3 linked regions of the Homo sapiens genome follow. The protein of the gene in region 2 interacts with the protein of the main gene of each other region in a pairwise test. Each region holds a gene or a part of one and is shown on either strand. Other genes may lie near its edges. The genes, in order: LYN, CD36 and UNG.

Region 1 (7,112 bases), on a different chromosome or scaffold from region 2:
GTGGTAGTGTTATATCCGTTTGACTTTACCAAGAATATACATTACTTTTACACACACACACACAAACACAGATCTGCAAATCTGCATTCCTATTCCAGATATTCAGATGCATTGTAAAAATATATGCAAAGACAATATATATTTTTCTCTTGGTAATTGTGGAACACTGAATGTCAAACAGCATGTACTAGGTGGGAAGGACTGGGAGAATTATTCACAAGGATCAAATCTTACTTTGTGTATTTAACTGTAGATTAATTAATTGCTTTTATTTTAGTATTTGTTTTTTGAGACAGAGTCTTGCTCTGTCACCCAGGCTGGAGTGCAGTGGCGCGATCTCAGCTCACTGCAATCTCCGCCTCCTGTGTTCAAGTGATTCTCCTGCCTCAGCCTCCCGAGTAGCTGGGACTACAGGCACGCACCACTATGCCTGGCTAATTTTTTTTTTTTCTAGTAGAGATGGGGTATCACCAGGTTGGCCAGGCTGGTCTCGAACTCCTGACCTCAAGTGATCCACCTGCCTTGGCCTCCCAAAGTGCTGGGATTACAGGCGTGAGCCACTGTGCCTGGCCTAACTATAGATTAATTTAGAACCACTTATAGAATATGACCTGCAACTGTATCTAAGAGAAATACGATGCATAAAAAGTTTTAATATAAAAATAGCGTTTGACGTCTTATACATATCATAACAAATATATCTTGTCTTGTTGAACCTTCAGTTTTTACTTACTTTGGTAATGTTTAATCATGTCGCTGATACAGGGAAAAGTGATTCGTGGAGAGATGTAATAGCCCCCATTATCCAGACTTCTAATTTTGTAGTGCTTAATAACATCACCATGCACAGGGTCAAAGTCTCTGACAGACAGAGAGAAGCTTCCTATGGGGGGAAAAGTGTAAGTAAATGTTTATATCTCACAAATAAGATCTGCATTATACAACAACTGCAGTACACATTTTGTGATACAAATATGCAAAATACATATATTTATGAAATTTGTATAAAATGCATAATTTTAAAAGTCCTATAAAAATTCTACTTGACAAATGAAGCTGGCATTTTGTTTGCTGTGTAGCTTGCCAACATACCATTTTCTTTCTTCATGATAATTTTTTTAAAATTATTATTTAGCTACATTTAAATTTTTTTAAGTTACTTTGATTTTCTTTTTTTTTTTTTTGAAATAGGTTGTTGCTCTGTCACCCAGGCTAGAGTAGAGTGGCACAATCATAGCTAACTGCAGCCTCCACCTCTTGGGCTCAAACGATCTTTCTACCCCAACCTCTCAAGTAGCTGAGACTACGATCATGCACCACCACAGCTGGCTAATTTTTTAATTTCTTATAGAAACAGGCTCTTGCTATGTTGCCCAGGCTGGTATCAAACTGCTGGGTTCAAGTGATTCTCAGTCTCGGCCTCCCAAAGCATTGGGATTACAGGCCTGAGCCACCACGCCCAGCCTAATTTTCTTTGTCTTAAAACTTCAGGATTTATTCAAATAATAATGCAAAAGGCTCAGCAAACAAAGCCTGGTAAGAACTGGCCACAATCATGTGTGCTTTCTACAGTACTTTTCTTTTCTTTTCTCTTTTTTTTTTGAGACAGTGCCTCACTCTGTCACTCAGGCTAGTTAGAGTGCAGTGGCGTGATCACGGCTCACTGCAGCCTCCCTTCCCTGGGTTCAGGTGATCTTCCTACCTCAGCCTCCAGAGTAGCTGGGACTATAGGCATGTGCTGCCAGGCCTGGCTAAGTTTTGTATTTCTTGTAGAGATGGGGTCTTGCTGTGTTGCCCAGGCTGGTCTCTAACTGCTGGACTCAAGTGATCCTCTCGCCTCAGCCTCCCAAAGTGTTAGGATTACAGGTGTGAGCCACCACACTCAACTATATTACTTTTAGTAGCACAACTAATCACTGAGGTTTGTTATTTGTTATCAAACCATAAAACTTTTACTACCAGAGCATACTATATGCCCTTTTTTCCCCTTGAGTAGCTCTAGAATAGTTTCTAAAAATAATTTCCTAAATAGTGTTTTAAAAGAGGCTTTGAACAATTTCCTACCTTTTAATGTTTCACTTTCTCTAATAAGGAAAGCTCCAGCGCTATTTCCTGGTGCCAAAAGCTGCCTTTCTGCGTCCTTCCTGGTTATATCCTTGAAAAACCACCTGTGAAGACATTTCAACATTTCCTGCATATTATGTTCCACGGCAAGAAAAAGGTGAAGAATATTAACAAGAAATCCAATGTGGCAAATAAAGCCACCAAGATGACAACACATGAGGACTCACTCTTCTGTTTCTAAGGTGTTGAGTTTGGCCACATAGTTGCTGGGGATGAAGCCTTCTTTTTTTGTTAAAAGGGACTTTGCTTTCCACCATTCTCCATGCCTAGAATAGAAATACACATCAAAAAGAAGCTAAAAGATTACATACTCCATGCATGTATCAAAATATCACAGATATCCCATAAATATGTATTTATGTACAGATATTACATATCAATTAAAAAATTAAAAATAAAGAAAACATAGACTTACCACAGGACCCAGCAACTATACTCCTTGACATATACCCAAGAAAGATGAAACCATAATGTCCACACAAAAACTTGTACATGAATGTTCAAAGCATCCTTATTTGTAAAAGCAAAAAGTAGAAACAACCAAAATGCCTATCAACTGATGAATGGACAAAATCTGGAATATCCATCCAGTGGAGTATTACTCAGCAGTGAAAGGAATGGAGTGCTGAGAGATGCTACAACAGGGATGAACTTTGAAAACATTATGCTAAATAAAAGAAGGCAGTCAAAAAGGACCACATATTGTATGATTCCATTTATGTGAAATATCCAGAATAGGTCAGTCTTCAGAGATAAAAAGTAGATTCGTGGTTTCCTAGGGCTGCAGAGAATGGGAGAGTTGAGGTGACAGCTAAGGGGTGCAGGGTTTCCTTTTGGGGTATTTAAAATGTTCTAAAATGGATTGTGGTGATGATTGCACAATTCTGTGACTATACTAAAAAAATCACTGAATTGTACACTTTAAGTAGATGGATTGTATGGTATTGTGAATTCTCAATAAAGCTATTAAAAAGAGAGAGAGAGAGACAAAGAAAAGAAGCCAGGAGTGAGGGTTTTGAATGTTCACAACACAAAGAAAGAATAAATGTTCCAGATGATGGATATGCTAATTACGCTGACTTGATCCGTACACACTGCATACATGTATCAAAATATCGCTCTGTATCCCATGACTGCATATAATTATTCCATGTCAACTAAAAATAAAAGGAAAAAAGTGTTTATATCCAAGACTCAACAGCTACAATAGCAATTGTCTCAAGATGTTTGTTTAGGATGGTGAAGGCGGGTGGAGAACATCTCTGGAACCCCAGAATCCAGTGGGAAAATTCACTCTCCGTGATGGAATTAAAATATGTTTAGAGACAGAAGCAAAGGAAAACAGCCTTACAACTAAAGCACGCATCACTGCGATCAGGGGTGCACAAAGAAGAGTTGGTACAAATGGCTCCCATCTCACAGAAACAAAAGGTTTGTAACTTGCCCCAGGATAGCTAAGAAATGCTTTCAAATCCTTATAGAAATGAGAGTCAAGGGAATACTGGTCCACAGTTCATGCATTATAAACTCCTTTGTTCAAACATCTAGTTATCATAGAGATGGACACTATGAAAAGAAGAAAACCATAAGACAATTCCAAGCAAGTGAGCTTCAGCACCATGCTCGAGTCCTCAGCAGAAAGGCAGGCATGGAGCCAGGGAGGAGGCAGGGATGAGCACTGGAAGAAGCAAGCAGGTAAGCTGGTAATGGGGGAAGGAATGGGTCCCTTTGAGCCTTAACTGCATTCCTCTATAAATTCCACACACAGACAGGATCCTTGTCTGTAAGGCATGAAGGCAACTAGAACTAATACTAAGCTCTGCATCCTCTTTGCTTATGTCATGTTTAAACACATGCATCATGCTCACATCAACCCCATGATCTAGGTACTGTCATTCCCATTTTATAAGTAAAGAAACCAAGGTATAAAGTTTAAGGGTCTTGTCAAGGTCATACAGCTATCAAGTGGCAGGGCCAGGATCAGGCTTAAGTCCCTGTTCAACCCATATGCAACATTGCTCTCAACCACGGAACACCTTGTCCTTAATAAGGGAGTCTCCCCCTCAAACCCTATTTGGCAGGTCACAGTGACATTTAATGCAAGATTAGTAAGAAAAGCAAGCTAGAATTAAAGCAACTGGAGTTTCTTATTCTGAGCACTGTCCTGCATGCCTATGGTCTGACACTGCCACATGTCTGAGTCAGCAAGAGGGGGTTGAGGAGATGACGACACTCAGGCGTCCTCACAAAAGCATGGCAGCTGCTGAGTTGAGAATTTCCCAACACAGCTGCTGTAGCTCAGTACCCTTAGAACTCAAGCTAGGCTGGGCCCATGAACCCAGTCTAAACATGAGTAATATAACAAAAGAAAAGTGACATTTCAAGTATCATGCATGGGCCACACAGACCCAAATTTCTTAAGGTGGCAAGAGTGGATAAAGAAAGAAACCAGGCTGGGTGTGGTGGCTCACACCTGTAATCCCAGCACTTTGGGAGGCCAAGGCAGGAGAATTGCTTGACAGCAGGAGTTCAAGACCAGCCTGGGCAACATAACAAGATCCCATCTCTACAAAAATTTTAAAAATTAGCCAGGCCTGGTGGCACATGCCTGTAGTCCTAGCTTCTCAGGAGGCTGAGGTGAGAGGATTGCTTTAGCCTAGGAGTTCAAGGCTGCAGTGAGCTATGATCATGCCACTGCATTCTAGCCTGGATGACAGAGAGAGATCCCATCTCAAAAAAAAAAATTGTTTTAAAGAAAAACCACTGTCTGTCTTCAAAGGGAAACCCCCTGAAGTGTGCTCACAGACCGACTTAAAAGGAAAATCCCTTTGGCTCTATTCCTTCCACTGCCCACTCCCTGTGGGTAGCAAGGAGGCCTCATACCCATTACAAGAAAGGGGCCGGGCTATGGCTGTAGCACCAGAAGCAAGACAAGGGGACAGCCTGCAGGACTCAGTGGCCTGAGGAAACGAGCAGCCGTGGCGTGCTTGAGAGCACTTACTCCTCCAGGACTTTCATCTTCTCTCCTTTCTTGAAAGACAAGTCGTCCGGGTGGATGCCATCATAGGGGTACAAGGCTACCACAATGTCTCCTTGTTCCTCTGGATCTAAAGATGAACACAAGAGAACACCTGTAAGAATCCATCAGCAGAAGCGTTTTAACAAACCTCATGGGGCACAAAGGATGAGAGGAAGCACTAAGAGGGGGCAACTGGAAGAAGGACATGTGCTTCCTGCCTAGTGGGCTCAGGGTCTGCACGGCCCACAGAGAGTACCTTGCTGTATACACTGTGTCCAGTATTTGTTCTTGCAAATCACTTAAAACTAAAACTATAAATACAACTCTATATTTAAGAAATTATACACCCATGTTCACAGCAGGATTATTCAAAATAGCCAAGATGTGGAAATAATGCAAACATCTATTGATGGAGGAATGGATAAACATCATGTAGCATTTTGGTTTTTCTCTTTTGAGACGGAGTCTCGCTCTTGTCGCCCAGACTGGAGTGCAATAGTGCAATCTCGGCTCACTGCAACCTCCACCTCCTGGGTTCAAGCTATTCTCCTGCCTCAGCCTCCCCAGTAGCTGGGATTACAGGCGCCCACCACCACGCCTGGCTAATTTTTTGTGTTTTTAGTAGAGACGGGGTTTCACCATGTTGACCAGGCTGGTCTCGAACTCCTGACCACAGGTGATCTACCTAACTTGGCCTCCCAAAGTGCTGGGATTACAGGTGTGAGCCACTGCACCCGGCCAGGGCATATACTTACAAGGAAATATTATTCACTATTAGAAGGAAATAAATTCTAACACTTTCTACAGCATGGATGAACCTTGAGGACATCAGGCTAAGTGAAATAATCCAAACACAAAAGGACAATTACTGTATGATTCCACTTCTAGGAGGTACCTAGAGTAGTGAAATTCATAAAGACAGAAAGAGCGGAGGTTGCCAGCGGCTGGGGGAGGAGGCAATGGGGACTTATTGTTTAATGGGTATGGAGTTTGAGAAGATGCATTCTGGAGATGGAGGGCGGTATTGGTTGTACAACAATGTGAATGTACCTAATGCTGCTGAAATGTATACTTAAAAATAGTTAAGAGGGTAAATTTTTATGTTATATATGTCCCACAATAAAAAAAAATAAAAACATTTAGGACAATCACTTTATAGAAGCTCTAATAGTAAAGAAAAAAAATTTTAACTATGTTGCTATGAAAACATACCTTTAGTTTGAAACCTCTGTCCAGGTAAAAGCTGAGATTCTGGAACCTACGAGAGAATATTTGTTAGAAAAAAAAATTCTGTTTAGCTTTTCTTACTCACATTCGTGTTGTATATATGATTTTTGTAACAGTAGCAGATGTTAGGATGGGCTCATTTATTAAGTCAGAAAGAACAGGAGCACAGAGGGAAAAACCTGTAGAGGTGCATCCTGCCCTGCTTGGCCAGTGACAGGGCTCTTTATCACTTGCTGTGGGTGGCAGGAAGGGAGCGAGGTTCTGGGCAGGTGCCAGGTGCTCACCTCATCCTAGCTCCTCCTCTTCTTTGGTGACAGAGCCCTAATATTATTTGGGGTGGCAGTTTGCCCAGCTCAATGAGTGTGCTTCCAAACTCTCTAGCCCCGGGCAGAGGGCAGAGGGAGTTTTGGTCCGCAGATCGGTTGTGCAGGGCTTTGCTGTCAGCTCCCCTTTTCCCTTGCCTCTTTCTCTCTCCCTAGAAACAAGTGAAGGCTGGAGTCTTCACATAGAAAGCAAACACCAGCGGCAGCAGGATGGAGACGGAAGAGGTGGGACCCTGGTGATTTCGTGGAGTTGCCGTCCCAGCCTGGGACTGCCCATCTGAGGCTTCCCCAATTGTATAAAATTGCATGGTCAGGGCTCTGTCCCTGGAGGCTGAGAGCAAGTCCCATCCCATCCAGGTTTTCTTGGGCTGACCCTGACTCCATCACAGGGACAGATGGCATCCCCTGTTATTTCAGTG
Region 2 (7,112 bases):
AAAGAAAAGAGTTATACCTGCTGTATGAAGGTATTCATAGAGAAATATGAGTCATAAGCCAATTATTTATAAATGTCTTTCAAAATATTTGGTGCACATGAAATGCAGTATACTGATGGTCCTGGAGACTGTTGCAGTTGAATAGGGCAGCTACTGGGATGATGGTGTTTCCCCCGGATGAGGATGACAGGAATGCAGGGCCTAGGATTTGTTGAGCATGTACACTCTTCTTCTGAATTGGCCACCCAGAAACCAATTATTGAATCAGAACAACACAAATTGGTTTGTGCTTGAGCCAGGTCTGTAGAAACGGAAATCAATTCAGTTGTGGAAATGATGAATTTTAAAAGCTGCTGGGTTTTTTTTTGTGCAAGGTAGAGATTTTCATAACATCTCAATAATCCTTTTGAAATGTGCAGTTGCTTAGTGCAAAAAAAGAAATAGTGCCACCATTTCTTCAACTAAAAGATAAGGTGTGCTTTGTAAAAGTAAAGCATATCCAATTTTCATCCTGTTGGTCGGTATTACCAAGGGTCATGATGTAGCTGGCGCACAAATGTGAAGAATCATTTACTACCTGTAGAGTGGCAGTATATCTTAGATATCATACTTTTTATTAATCAGTTCAGTTTCTCTAGCTGCAGAGAGAAGTTCTCTAACGGACTTCACCAATAGGGCAAAACACATTCCCATTCCAGAAAGGCACATAAGAAGGGTGCTTCAAGACAAGCACACACCAGGCAAGGAACGGTAGCTGAAGTGCATCTGCCCTGGACCAGCATTTCCACACCCTTCAGACCAAGTTCCATTTAAAGGTGTATGTACTACTTTCAAAAGGACCATTGGGTTATTTTCTTGTGACCCCCTGAGTAAAACCACACATTAAAGCTCCACCGTCTTACACTTTGCTACTTCTTACATACCTGTCTTCTTACTTGTTCCTATTGTTTACAAATCTGCCCAAAGATATAATTTTTATGATATTAAGAGCTGAATTTTGCTTAAGAAAATCTACATATCTTTTGTGATTCTTCTAAATCTAGTAAATCAAGTAATCAACAGTTTATTCTCTGCTTGTAAAAAAGGGTAGTAATTTTTCCACATAAAAATCAAATATATAAGCAAAACTAATATATTTGTTGACAAAGTTGCTCCAGCAAGCCTTGAATTTTTCATTATAATTTAGCTATAAATAGACCCAAGGAATCTGACATCCAAGGATCATTAAGCAATCATAAAAATGTATCACATAATTTTAATTCTGAATACTTACTTACAAAACATGTTTATAACTTCTGCATTTCCTTTTATTAAGCATGCTTTCCCATTAGGACAAGTTTTTTTGTTATTTTGTTTTACTTTTCAGCGGATGATCTATTACATAGTCATACAAATACCTTTGTTTAGTCATAATTTGTCAGTAGGCTACTGACAGGTATTGAAGGTAATATTTAACTTTTTATAATGTGAACATTTTAGGCTAGCATTTTGAAGCCATTCTGTCCAAATAGTTTGGATGCAGAATTATTGTCTTTTTGGTGACTAAATAGTGGTAGAAGTGATTAGAACCAAAAATTAGGTTGCCTTTTCAAACACAAGCTCTCCATCTCACAAAAGGAAATTATTGGTCCCCAAATTCCACTTTCACTGATTTATGCTTTGGTCACAAACAATTAAAATGTATGATTTCATGGAACATCTCTAGAAGATAGAATGGATGCTGATGAATCCAGGCTATTGGAAAATCATGAAATTGTATTAGGGATCATGTGAGATAAAGAATCTTTCTTTAGCATGGTACTGGCACACAGTAAACAACTAAATAAGTTATTATAACACACATACTGCTTTTATTTACATTGCCTTGAGGTGGGCTGAAGAAAAATAGGGAGAAAGTAAAAAATTCTCCCCCACAGGCAACACCAATGTTACCTGTGATAACTAAAAAAAGGTTTTCCTTTAGGAAAGGTCAGGCATTCATTCATCTTTAAGAGTGCATGGACACTAATATCTAAAGCATAGAGGCCTAAACTCTTGTACACCACTCTGAGTACTTGGTTCTACTATGTTGAACACTATTTTCCCCTATTTCCTGATACTATTATATTCAAATTTTTGTTCAGGACTTTTCTGGATTTGGAAAATGCACGGCCAGCATGTCTACATGCAGCAATCCTGGTCTTATGAAACCATTTCCTAGTCAATTATTTTTAAGTATCAGATAATATATAACTAGCTATATAATTGAGAAATGAACCAGTCAATTTTGGACAACTTTGGCACAAGTGCTTTATTTGTGCTATTGTTACAATGGTCACAAGTACATCTTTTATCTCATTTCTCCCAGAATTAAAGATATACTTTAGTGATCTGCGTGATAATATTTATAGGTTTATTTACCTATATTTAAAAATGATCAGTGGCTAGACATGTCTAGAAATATATATGGCCTAATATGTAACTTCTCTTTGATAAAGTGAAAACAAGTAATATATAAGCTAATATTATTGAAGCAATATTTTTTGGTACATACTTACTTATTTTATTGTTTTCGATCTGCATGCACAATATGAAATCATAAAAGCAACAAACATCACCACACCAACACTGAGTAAGATCATTTCTATCAGGCCAAGGAGGTTTATTTTTCCAGTTACTTGACTTCTGAACATGTTTGCCTTCTCATCACCAATGGTCCCAGTCTGTAATCAAGTTAATAATCAACATTATTTGGGTACGTTAGTAAAACAAAATAAACCCTTCAATTGCCTATCACCCTTTTTTCTAACACCTCTATTGGTGTTAGTCATCAGTATCTATAAGGCAAGTTAATGGAATTCCTTTTGCAAGTCAAGAAAGGCAATTAAGTGCCAGATAGAGTACGGTACTCTTCAATGTACTAGGATTCATTTGCTCTTCAGAACTATCAAAGGGTCAACAGTTTCATTTGCTCCAAAGACTTATTCAATGTTTTTCCTATTTTTATAGCTATCAATGCATGGATTTATAGTAAAAATACCTTGTCAGGCAATAGAAGACAAATGTTACAACAAGAAAATGTGTTTAATAGATGCATTTTTGAAGAAAATCTTAAATGATAGGAAATGTTTTTGTTCAATTGGATCATCTCAAATAGGTTAAATAAATGTATACTCATCCATATGGGTAATGGAAATACATATAGCTTTAAATACTATACATTCTTTTGAAACATCAAGAGCTTGTTTATATACAAAGAAGGTTGTTTTTAATGACTAACAGCTGCAAATACAAACCTCATTAAGCCAAAGAATAGGCACAATATAGTTCCTCTTCAGATTCTTTAATACTCTGTAATATACGTTGAAAATAATTATGAACATATAAACTAATATTTATATATAACAAACTTTAAAATAAATGTTCATAAATTAGTTGCTGTTGCTAATTTGATTTTGTTCCTGTAATGACTCATTTAAATTTTAATATAGTTGTTTTTGACTTCCTTTGCTCTTATATGTCTTCTAATCACATTGATTTTTTTTCACAAGTGTGGATTTTTCCTTTCAATAAATTCTCGGGGAACTGAAATATGAATTCCAAAAATTAATTATTGTCATAGAAATATTTGGGCAGCTAACAAAATAAGAGATGCTATCAAATGCTCAAATAAAACCATAAAACCATTCCAAAATCTGTGAAATTAGTCATAAGCATTTAATAATGATTGGTGACATTAAGCTAAAGATAAGTTGATATCAGATGTTATTTCCACTTACTTACATAGATTTACTCATGTTCTTACAAGAAGATACTACGATACTACAGATCATATCAAAATAACCATTTTCAAGAGACTCACTGAATTTTTTCTGATGGCTTGACCAATAGGTTGACCTGCAGCCGTTTTGCAAATTGTAAAGTGAATCCAGTTATCTAAAAAGAGAACAACTAAATAATTACCAACTTTTAAAAACATTATTTTATACTATTCAAAACTTATTTTTCTTACAGCAGAAGAGAAGGTAGTAACTTAAGGTTAAACAGGACTAATTGAAACTTTTAAAACTGCATATATAGTTATAGTTATATACACATGCATCCATATAGATACACACAATTTATTTGCCCAATCGAATGTCAAGGTTTTAGTTAGTTAGATTTGTGAGTTACTTGAAATGGTTTTTAAAAAATCAAAAATCAGCAACAAAATATAAGATCTCAGATAATTCCTGGTCAAATATATATTCAGTTAGAATCCATGTGTCATTGTTTAAACTAAAACATAACTACTAAAATCCTAGAATTTCATTTACTTTTTGAAAAGGAAAATACAAAAATAAAGATGATTAAAACTGTTGCGCTACAACAATTTTATAGATTTTGACAATAAGTATAGTCAAACTCACATATACTCTTTGACTTTTGCATAATATACAATAACTCCTCATCTAAACATAAATATTTATATAAAATTATTTTAAGCCAATTAGAATCACTTCATAAACCATAGGAAGAAATCGACCTAAGTTTCAGTAACTTTCAAGAATGTGATTCAATAAATATGATTATTTATTGAATAAATAATCATCGACAAGATTATTTTTATTTCAATTGTATTTTTAAAAATATCAACCAAATCAGATCAATAAGGTGTTTTCTTACAGGTTCAATATCCAAGTATGTCCTATGTTCTTCTTCATTTGGGTTTAATCCATCAATAGGTTCTGAAACATCAGGACTTGCATACAGAAAATGAGGAAGTGAAATGTACACAGGTCTCCCTGAAGACAAGTTTTAAGAGTCAATTGGAATTAATAACTTCCTTCATTTCACATATAACTCAAAAAATATTTCCACAAAACTAAAGCTTCTTGCATTAAAAAATACATGGTTTTTAACATGGGTGGGGAAGAATTATGTCAGTTGATTTCTACTATAAACTCCTTCAGTATTAATTTTCAATATGTAAAGCTTTCAGGCAGTAATATGTCTATGGACTAAGAATTTATTTAACACTAGTTTTTTCTTTCTTCTTCCACACCCACGTTAGTATGATAAATATGTACAGGATAAGCTAGTCTCCAAATTTTATGTTTAACTCTAGCTTTAGATACATACTGAAAATACATTTACCTGTACCATTTTCTAGTGAAAAAAGTTAGGACAGATGAATAACAGGATGTTTAATGTGTTCTCGGAATTATTTTCATTTCACCCTAAATCTAAAAGCAGCCACAAGGAAATACTGGTGTGGTTTTAACTAAATTTTGTAATACTGAAACACAAGTGGGATCTTCCCAAAATACAAAATCAGCACTAAAATTTTCTGCCACCATTCTTTCTTCTGCCCTAATTACTTTCTTACTTTAATTTTAAATTTTGGTTGCTAAAGGATTATGGTAAAGTTCTCATTTTAAAGAATATCACAAATTATGATATATTTTAAATTTTGGTTGCTAAAGGATTATGGTAAAGTTCTCATCTTAAAGAATATCACAAATTATGGTATGGACTGTGCTACTGAGGTTATTTACTCACCTTCTTTGCATTTGCTGATGTCTAGCACACCATATGATGTACAATTTTTTGAGATAATTTTTTCTGTGCAGAAACAATAGTTGTCTGGGTTTTCAACTGGAGAGGCAAAGGCCTTGGATGGAAGAACAAATCTATACACAGGGATTCCTTTCAGATTAACGTCGGATTCAAATACAGCATAGATTGACCTAAATACAGAGAAAAAAGAGCTGCATTCCAGGAACCTGAACTTACATTCTGGAGATTCATTTTTTCTTATTCTTGTTTTAACTTAGAAACATCATATACTCTTTTAAATTCTTGTTTCATTCTTAGAAAAAAAGTGATTGGGAAATTTTAACACATACTAAAACTCAATAGCCAAGCATGAACTATTCTTGTTTGTGAAGTACCATGTTTATTTATACTCAAGTTACTTCTCACAGGCAATTTATCCAATAGAGTAAATATTTATAGGACTTCCTTCAAATACTTTATTTGTGATCAGTTTAAATGAAATAGTTTCTTTCACGGCTTAATTAATCCTGGAAAGAAAGACCACTCACTGGAGTGTATGCATATACATGCTGGATATATACCTGGTACATTTCCATCGTTTACCAAGTGTCTATCATAGGGTTCAATACACATATTTTTCTTATCCCCAGATACACGTATATGAAGAAATACTGCTGTCTTAAATTGTACAGATAAGAAAAAAATTCAGAGATGTTAAATGCCTACCCACAAGCATACAGTCTTTAGGGACAGAGCTTGGGCTCAAGGGTAGTGGTAAAGGCTCCAGTGCTTGTGTGTTATCTACTGGGCCCCACAAATCTGAGCAGAGCACATTAACACAGTTCTGTTACATTTGCATCATCTTCTCTGTATGTCTTTAGAAAGATTGGGCACGCCCTTCTGGACTTGATCGTTAATAGACTACTAGTTTAGTTTTTAAAAGGCAAAATGGTTCTTGCTTAGATAGAAATGGCAAAAAAAAAAAAAATTTGTACTATTAAAAATTGGAAGATGCAGAAGAACATTTTGCAAAGAGTTAGTTAATAAACATGATGAATTTCCTATGCTGTGTTTAAGTTTCTTGGTCTGCATTTTGTCACCTGGGGTCTGACTCAGACATACTTATACTTCAGTATCTGTCTTACCTGCAAATATCAGAAGAAAAGAACTGCAATACCTGGCTTTTCTCAACAAAAGGTGGAAATGAGGCTGCATCTGTTTAAAAATCGAGTGGCAAATGATTAGATGTAATGTGTGTTCTAGAAAAAAACCTAGAAATCTCTCCTCCAGTGTAGTCCATAGAAATGTAATGCAAACTGCCTAAGTAATTTATCTAGCAGCCACATTTTTAAAAGGTAAAAAGAAATAACCGGCCAGGCATGCTGGCTCATGCCTGCAAGCCCAGCACTTTGGAAGGCCAAGGCGGGTGGATCACCTGAGGTCAGGGGTTTGAGACCAGCCTGGCCTACATGGTGAAACCCCATCTCTACTAAAAATACACAAAATTAGCTGGGTGTGGTGGTAGGCGCTTGTAATCCCAGCTACTTGGGAGGCAGCTATCCTGAGGCAGGATAGGCCTGCCTCAGCTATCCTGA
Region 3 (7,112 bases), on a different chromosome or scaffold from region 2:
TAAGAATTTAGAATCTAGCTCTTTGGTTTTGAAGCTAAATTAAATCCTATTAAGATCAATACTAATTTGCTTCTTGTTTGAATGCCCTATTCTGAATACCAGTAATCAGTATAAACAGGGAATATTAAAAGGAATATTTTGAGGGAATGCTCAAAAACCAGTTTCAAACCTATGAGGATCAGATGGGCCAGCAGGGCTTCTTGACAGACCAGCATTGGGAGAGTTGTTTCACAAGAGAATATGTTGGCATGGTGTGAACACCAAGGGGAGGGACAAGAGGTCCCCAAAAGCCTCCTGGTCATGGAACATCTGGAGCTGGATTCTGAAAGATAGAGTATGTCAGCTGTGGAGGAAGATTCTAAGAACGCAATGGCAGAAGCTTGAGAATGAAGACTAGGTGGGTGGGCCCTGGATGGGAAGGACGAGGCGGCCTATGTTTCAACACCTCCCGTGACAGGAACTTCATTTCATTTCATTGTCTCTTGCCACCTACTCCCATGGCCCTTTTGATCTGACCTCATTCTCTTCTGGCTCCACCTGTTAGAGGATATAGGGGAGCAGACACCCTCATATGCTGCTGGTGGGAAATCTGAATTGCTTTTTTTTTTTTTTTTTTTTTTTTTTTTTGAGATGGAGTGCAGTGGTGCAATCTCGGCTTACTGCAACCTCCACCCCCTGGGTTCAAGCGATTCTCCTGCCTCAGCCTCCCGAGTAGCTGGGACTACAGGTGTGCGCCACCACACCCAGCTAATTTTTGTATTTTTAGTAGAGATGGGGTTTCACCATGTTGGCCAGATGGTTTCGATATCTTGACCTCGTGATCTGCCTACCTCGGCCTCCCAAAGTGCTGGGATTACAGGCGTGAGCCACCATGCCAGGCCCTAAATTGCTTTAATTCATCGAAAAGTAACTGGGGGCTAGGCACAGTGGCTCATGCCTGTAATCCCAGCATTTTGGGAGGCCGAGGAGGGAGGATCCCTTGATCTCAGGAATTTGAGACCAGCCTCAGCAACATAAGGGAGGCCGTGTGTCTACAAAAAGTAAAAAAAAAATTAGGTGGGCATAGTGGTGCACTCCTGTGGGCCCAGCTACTCTGGAGGCTCAGGTGGGAGGACCACTTGAGCCCAGGAGGGCGAGGCTGCCATGAGCTGTGATGGCACCACTGCACATCAGCCTGAGCAACACAGCAAAACCGTGTCTCAAAAAATTAAAAAAGCAGCTAGGTACATATCTTTACAAGTTTAAAATACGCTTAGCCTTTGACCAGCAACTCTGCTATTAGCAATCTATGCCATAGAAGTGTTTTATTTGTTTTGTTTATGTTTGTTTGAGGCAGGGTCTGTGCTGCTTACATTACAGTATTGTTTAATTCCTGACCCCTGGTGGTTCACAGGTGAAGGTTGTCATCCTGGGACAGGATCCATATCATGGACCTAATCAAGCTCACGGGCTCTGCTTTAGTGTTCAAAGGCCTGTTCCGCCTCCGCCCAGGTACAGTTGCTTTACAGGTGACTGCAGTCCAGACATGATTCCTTTCAGATGTGTACTTAGCTTATTACAAGTGGGACTATCTGGGGCACTGTTCACTAGCCTTGGAGGAGGATTTCTCGGCCTCAGCACCATTGACATTTGGGGCTGAGTCATTCTTTGTTGTGGAGGAGGAGAGGAGTCCTGTGCTATTGCAGGATCTTGTGCCACATCCCTGGCCTCTACCACTGGAAACCAGGAGCAACCCCCAGCTCGTGATAATGAAAAATGTGCAGACATTGCCAAAAGTCCCTTGGGGGCGTAAAATCACCCCTGGTTAAGAACCACTGCTTTGGGCCGGGCGCGGTGACTCACGCCTGTAATCCCAGCACTTTGGGAGGCTGAGGCAGGAGAATCGCTGGATCCCGGGAGGCGGAGGTGGCAGTGAGCCGAGATCCTGCTACTGCACTCTAGCCTGGGTGACACAGCAAGACTGGAAAAAAAAAAAAAAGAACCACTGCTTTTGGAGGATTTGGTGTATGATATACATAAATATGCTAAGGACAGAAAACTGTCCCTGAGCAACAGTGGGGGTCTGGGTTGTAACTGCTGGGTTGATTTACTTAGGTTTTCCAGAGTGCTGTTAAATCCAAGTACAGACTAAAGTAAAGGTCTTTGGCAGAGTCACCTGTTAGAAGGAGGACTGGCAGTGTTGATCTCATTAATCGGCGCCATATGTGCCAGTGTCCCTTCCAAGGGCTGGCTGTAACTTCTAACCTTTTCACATATGTCTTAGACGTTACTGAGCTTTCAAAATTATGCTTAAGATTCTGTTTTTTGTTTTTCTTGTGGCTTGCTTTCAGTTTGGAGAACATTTATAAAGAGTTGTCTACAGACATAGAGGATTTTGTTCATCCTGGCCATGGAGATTTATCTGGGTGGGCCAAGCAAGGTAAGCCAGCGACTGCTAGATTTTTTTTTTTTTTTTTTTTTTGAGACCGAGTCTCACTCTGTTGCCCAGGCTAGAGTGCAGTGGTGCAATCTCAGCTTACTGCAACCTCTGCCTCCCAGGTTCAGGCGATTCTCATGCCTCAGCCTCCTGAGTAGCTGGGACCACAGGCATGAGCCACCATAGCTGGCTAATTTTTTAATGTATTTTTAGTAGAGACAGGGTTTCACCATGTTGGCCAGGCTGGTCTCGAACTCCTGACCTCAGGTGATCCGCCCGACTCGGCTTCCCAAAGTGCTGGGATTACAGGCATAAGCCACCACGCCCAGCCCCGACTCCATTGTTGATGGTAGTGGCTGCTGCCATTATGCCGGCTGCAGCAGGGAAGCACAGCTTGCTACACTGGATCCCATCAAGCATTGGTTTCATCATGGATTTAGCTCCTGTTGCTGGGTATTGGGCTGATTTGCCTGAGCCTACATTTAACCTGTTTCTCTCATGTGTATAGGTGTTCTCCTTCTCAACGCTGTCCTCACGGTTCGTGCCCATCAAGCCAACTCTCATAAGGAGCGAGGCTGGGAGCAGTTCACTGATGCAGTTGTGTCCTGGCTAAATCAGAACTCGAATGGCCTTGTTTTCTTGCTCTGGGGCTCTTATGCTCAGAAGAAGGGCAGTGCCATTGATAGGGTATGTTTTGTTTTCTTTCTTTTTTTTCTTTTTTTTTTAACACTATAAAAACAATGTAAAGAATTCTAGGAGTCCCTGCTGTGTTTGGTCCTGGAAAATCCATGTTATAAAATAACTTTTATTTTCCCTTAGGCCTGTTATAAGGGTTTCCCATTGAAAACTGAGAAGAATTTGGACAAATTATAGGGGTGATGAGTTGTGTATGAGGAAAGCAAAGCAACTGGCCAACTTGTGACTGAATGCAGTTGGTGCTGTAGGCATGAACTTGGTGTCTACAAGATACAAGTCCCTGGGTACCATTCACTTAACAAGTGATGGATGAGGCATGTTTCTGGCTTCCAAGAAATTTGGGAACATATAGAAAACACAAAGAATTCCACTCAATCACAAATTTAACTTGCCCATGAAAATACTATCAGTGATCATTATTGTTTTGTTTCTGGGTTTTTTGTTTTTTGATGGAGTCTCGCTCTGTTGCCCAGGCTGTAGTGCAGTGGTATGATTTTGGCTCACTGCAACCTCCGCCTGCTGGGTTTAAGTGATTCTGCCTCAGCCTCCCGAGTAGCTGGGACTACAGGCGCCCGCCACCACACCCGGCTGATTTTTTTTTATTTTTTAGTAGAGACAGGGTTTCACCATGTTGGCCAGGCTGGTTTTGAACTCCTGACCTCAAGCGATCTGTCCTCCTCAACCTCCAAAGTGCTAGGATTACAGGCATGAGCCACCACACCCGGCCTATCGGTGATCATTATTAACCCCAAGGTCTAATTGCAGATACCCAACACGACCAAACCAGTGGCTCCCCTCCCTACATCTTCCCCCTATCTGCTACCTCCCTCTTTCCCTTCACTCACTGAAGCACTTCTACACCTGGTTGTGGAAATCAGAGACCTAAAAGTCATCCTTGAATCCTCCATCCCATCAGTAAATCCCATCAACTCTGCCTCCCAAAACACCCCAGTCTACTGCTTCTCATTCGCCACTGCTGCCCTTCAGGCATGAGTCACCATCATCTTTCTCCAGGAGAACCGTGATGGACTAGAGATGGAGGCTTGATGGAGAGCCGCAGAGTGGAGGAGGGAGAGATAGGGGGTGGGAAGGAGACGAGCCAGGGGTGTGTTCATCCCTGGCAAATGGGAGAGACATTGGGTGGGGGAGAAATTATAGAGTAAATGCTTCAATGATCGAAGGCAAGGGCTTAGCAGAGGTAACCTGACAATAGTTTTTGGTGTATCAGCAGGAGGTAACGGGGGTATCAGAAATGTGCACGTATATTTAACCCCTACCTTGTGTGGGTACTAGGTTGAGCACTTTTGTTTTTTGAGATGGAGTCTTTCTGTCACCCAGGCTGGAGTGCAGTGGCATGATCTCGGCTCACTGCAACTTCGCCTCCTGGGTTCAAGCACTTCTCCTGCCTCAGCCTCCTGAGTAGCTAGGATTACAGTTGCCTGCCACCACACCCAGCTAATATTTTTTATTTTTAGTAGAGACTGGGTTTCACCATGTTGACAAGGCTGGTCTTGAACTCCTGACCTCAAGCGATCCTCCCATCTTGGTCTCCCAAAGTGCTAGGATTACAGATGTAAGCCACCGCACCCGACCAGGTTGAGTACTTTGCATGCAGAATCTTACTTAACTCTCAGAAAGGCTTTGAGGTAGGCATACACTTGTATGAGTGACCTAAGATCTGACTGGTATGAACTGCTAAGATGTGATCATCTAGGTATGTAAGAAGTGTGCGTGAGAGTAATTGCTAATCTCTATCCCTTAGGGAGGTTTACGGCCAGTGTTGCTCTTCCGCAGTATATTGGTAATCTTTAATCATGGTTTGGTCTGAAAGTAAACAGTTGTTAAAGTAGCTTGGTCATTAAAGCCAAATTGCATATCTCCAGCCCAGTGTCTCTTCTGATCTATAGAGTGCCTTGTTACTACTGCCCCATGAACATGCCAAATTCAACATTTTCCAAACGAAGTTTCTCCTTTTCTCATCCATGCTTCACTAAACTTCCTCCTCTGCACTCCCTAGCAGCAAAAAGCACCATCATCTGCCCAGTTGTCCAGCCAGATCTATTACTGACACCTGCCTACCTCTCTTTCTCCCCTCTTCTGTCCTTTTTTTCCACCTTCCCAGTCAGTCAGTCATTCATATCTGTGTTCTTTCTTCCCCCTCCAAATCTACCCCTGCCTGACCACCTTTGCCTTCATTCAGGCCCTCACCTGATCTTGCCTGGAGGGTTCTGATGCTTTCTCCCTGGAAGGCCTTGCCTTAGGCTGAAGATCTGATTTCAGGGGGGTAGAGGGGTGGCCCCCAATCGGCCTCCCAGACTTAACTCTATCCCTCTTTGCACTCCGATCCCTAGGCTGACCCATTCCCCTTTACTTTTTCACGGTGCCCCACTTCCCTGCCTTTGCATATCCTGCTTTCTCTGCCTACAGTGTAGAGGTCATTTTCTTCTGGGATTCTTTAGAGCTCTGCAGGGCTGACATTTACAGGGGCCTGTGCTGCTTGCGTGTGTGTTCAGCATTTGGTGTGCATGACTTCTTATCACACTCAGCCCCTGTGATCCTCATTTGATTGGTCACAGTAACTTCATAAGCTGGGCGGTATTGTTATTCCCAGTCTACAGATGAAAACTGAAGCAGCTTAGAGTTGCAGCAACTTCTCTGTGGTACAGCTACTGAGGGTAGAGGTAGGCCTCGACCCCGGGCAGTCTGGCTCCAGGCTCTGTACTCTTAACCACACTGGATTGCCTGGCTTTAGTCCTCACCCCTCATCGCCCCTCCTGGACTGAGCCCCTTGAAGGCAAGAGTGTTTTGAGAAACAGTGATTTGTTCGTTAGTTTTTATATACAGAAAAGAAGAGGAAAACAAAAATGGTCTATATCTCCCTGTTAAAATAACTATAGTTGATATTTTAAAAAAATCAAAGTAGTCATTTGCCACATAATGATGTTTCAGTCATAAACTGTATATATGACGATGGTCCCATAAGATTATAATATTCTGGCCGGGTGTGGTGGCTCATACCTGTTATCCCAGCACTTTGGGTGGCCGAGGCGAGTGGATTGTCTGAGCTCAGGAGTTTGAGACCAGCCTGGGCAACATAGTGAAACCCTGTCTCTACTAAAATACAAAAAATTAGCCAGGTGTGGCGGCGTGTGCCTGTAGTCCCAGCTACTTGGGAGGCAGAGGTTGCAGTTAGCTGAGATCATGCCACTGCACTCCAGCCTGGCAACAGAGTGAGACTCTATCTCAAAAAAAAAACATATATATATATACACATATATATATACGTATATATATATGTGTATATATATATATATAAAAAATATTTTTACTGCATCTTTTCTATGTTTAGATACACAAATGCCTACCATTGTGTCACAGTTGCCTATAGTATTTAGTACAGTAACATGCTACACAGGTTTGTAGACCAGGAGCAATAAGCTACACTATATAGCCTAGGTGTGTAGTGGTAGGTTATCCCATTTGGGTTTGTGTAAAGATGCCCTGTGGTGTACGGATAGCAGTGAAATTGCCTAACAACACACTTCTCAGAATGCATCCCTGTCATTAGGTGATGTATGACTATTGCTTTTTTTCTTTTGAAACAGGGTCTAGCTCTGTCACCCAGGCTGGAATGCACTGGCTTGATCTCAACTCACTGCGGCCTCAACCTCCCAGGCTCAAGCAATCCTCCCACCTTAGTCACCTGAGTAGCAGGGACCACAGGCGTGCGCCACCACACCTGGCTAATTTTTGTATTTTTTTTTGTGGAGACAGGGTTTCACCACGTTGCCCAGGCTGGCTCTTGAACTCCTGGACTTAAACGATCCTCCTGCCTCGGCCTCCCAAAGTGCTGGGATTACAGGCGTGAGCTACCACACCTGGCCACTGACTATTCCTCTTTTTTTTTTTTTTTTTTTTTTTTCTGAGACAGTTTCACTCTTGTTGCCCAGGCTGGAGTGCAATGGCGTGATCTCAGTTCACTGCAGCCTCCCCCTCCTGG

What was found.
Region 1: the proteins of CD36 (region 2) and LYN interact in binary tests that used the Homo sapiens proteins (3 or more experiments, as listed by UniProt).
Region 3: the proteins of CD36 (region 2) and UNG interact in binary tests that used the Homo sapiens proteins (3 or more experiments, as listed by UniProt).

What each region holds. Positions count from the first base shown.
Region 1 is NC_000008.11:55,945,737-55,952,848, reverse strand, and holds part of LYN (tyrosine-protein kinase Lyn), read right to left. Parts: intron 6,402-7,112; coding exon 6,356-6,401; intron 5,232-6,355; coding exon 5,126-5,231; intron 2,391-5,125; coding exon 2,292-2,390; intron 2,169-2,291; coding exon 2,065-2,168; intron 884-2,064; coding exon 734-883; intron 1-733. UniProt on the Homo sapiens protein: Non-receptor tyrosine-protein kinase that transmits signals from cell surface receptors and plays an important role in the regulation of innate and adaptive immune responses, hematopoiesis, responses to growth factors and cytokines, integrin signaling, but also responses to DNA damage and genotoxic agents.
Region 2 is NC_000007.14:80,669,573-80,676,684, reverse strand, and holds part of CD36 (platelet glycoprotein 4), read right to left. Parts: intron 6,733-7,112; coding exon 6,663-6,732; intron 5,709-6,662; coding exon 5,521-5,708; intron 4,764-5,520; coding exon 4,645-4,763; intron 3,916-4,644; coding exon 3,842-3,915; intron 3,331-3,841; coding exon 3,276-3,330; intron 2,703-3,275; coding exon 2,538-2,702; exon of another isoform or gene 2,265-2,537; intron 578-2,264; exon of another isoform or gene 302-577; 3' UTR 1-301.
Region 3 is NC_000012.12:109,100,509-109,107,620, forward strand, and holds part of UNG (uracil-DNA glycosylase), read left to right. Parts: intron 1-1,393; coding exon 1,394-1,491; intron 1,492-2,330; coding exon 2,331-2,419; intron 2,420-2,924; coding exon 2,925-3,103; intron 3,104-7,112. UniProt on the Homo sapiens protein: Uracil-DNA glycosylase that hydrolyzes the N-glycosidic bond between uracil and deoxyribose in single- and double-stranded DNA (ssDNA and dsDNA) to release a free uracil residue and form an abasic (apurinic/apyrimidinic; AP) site.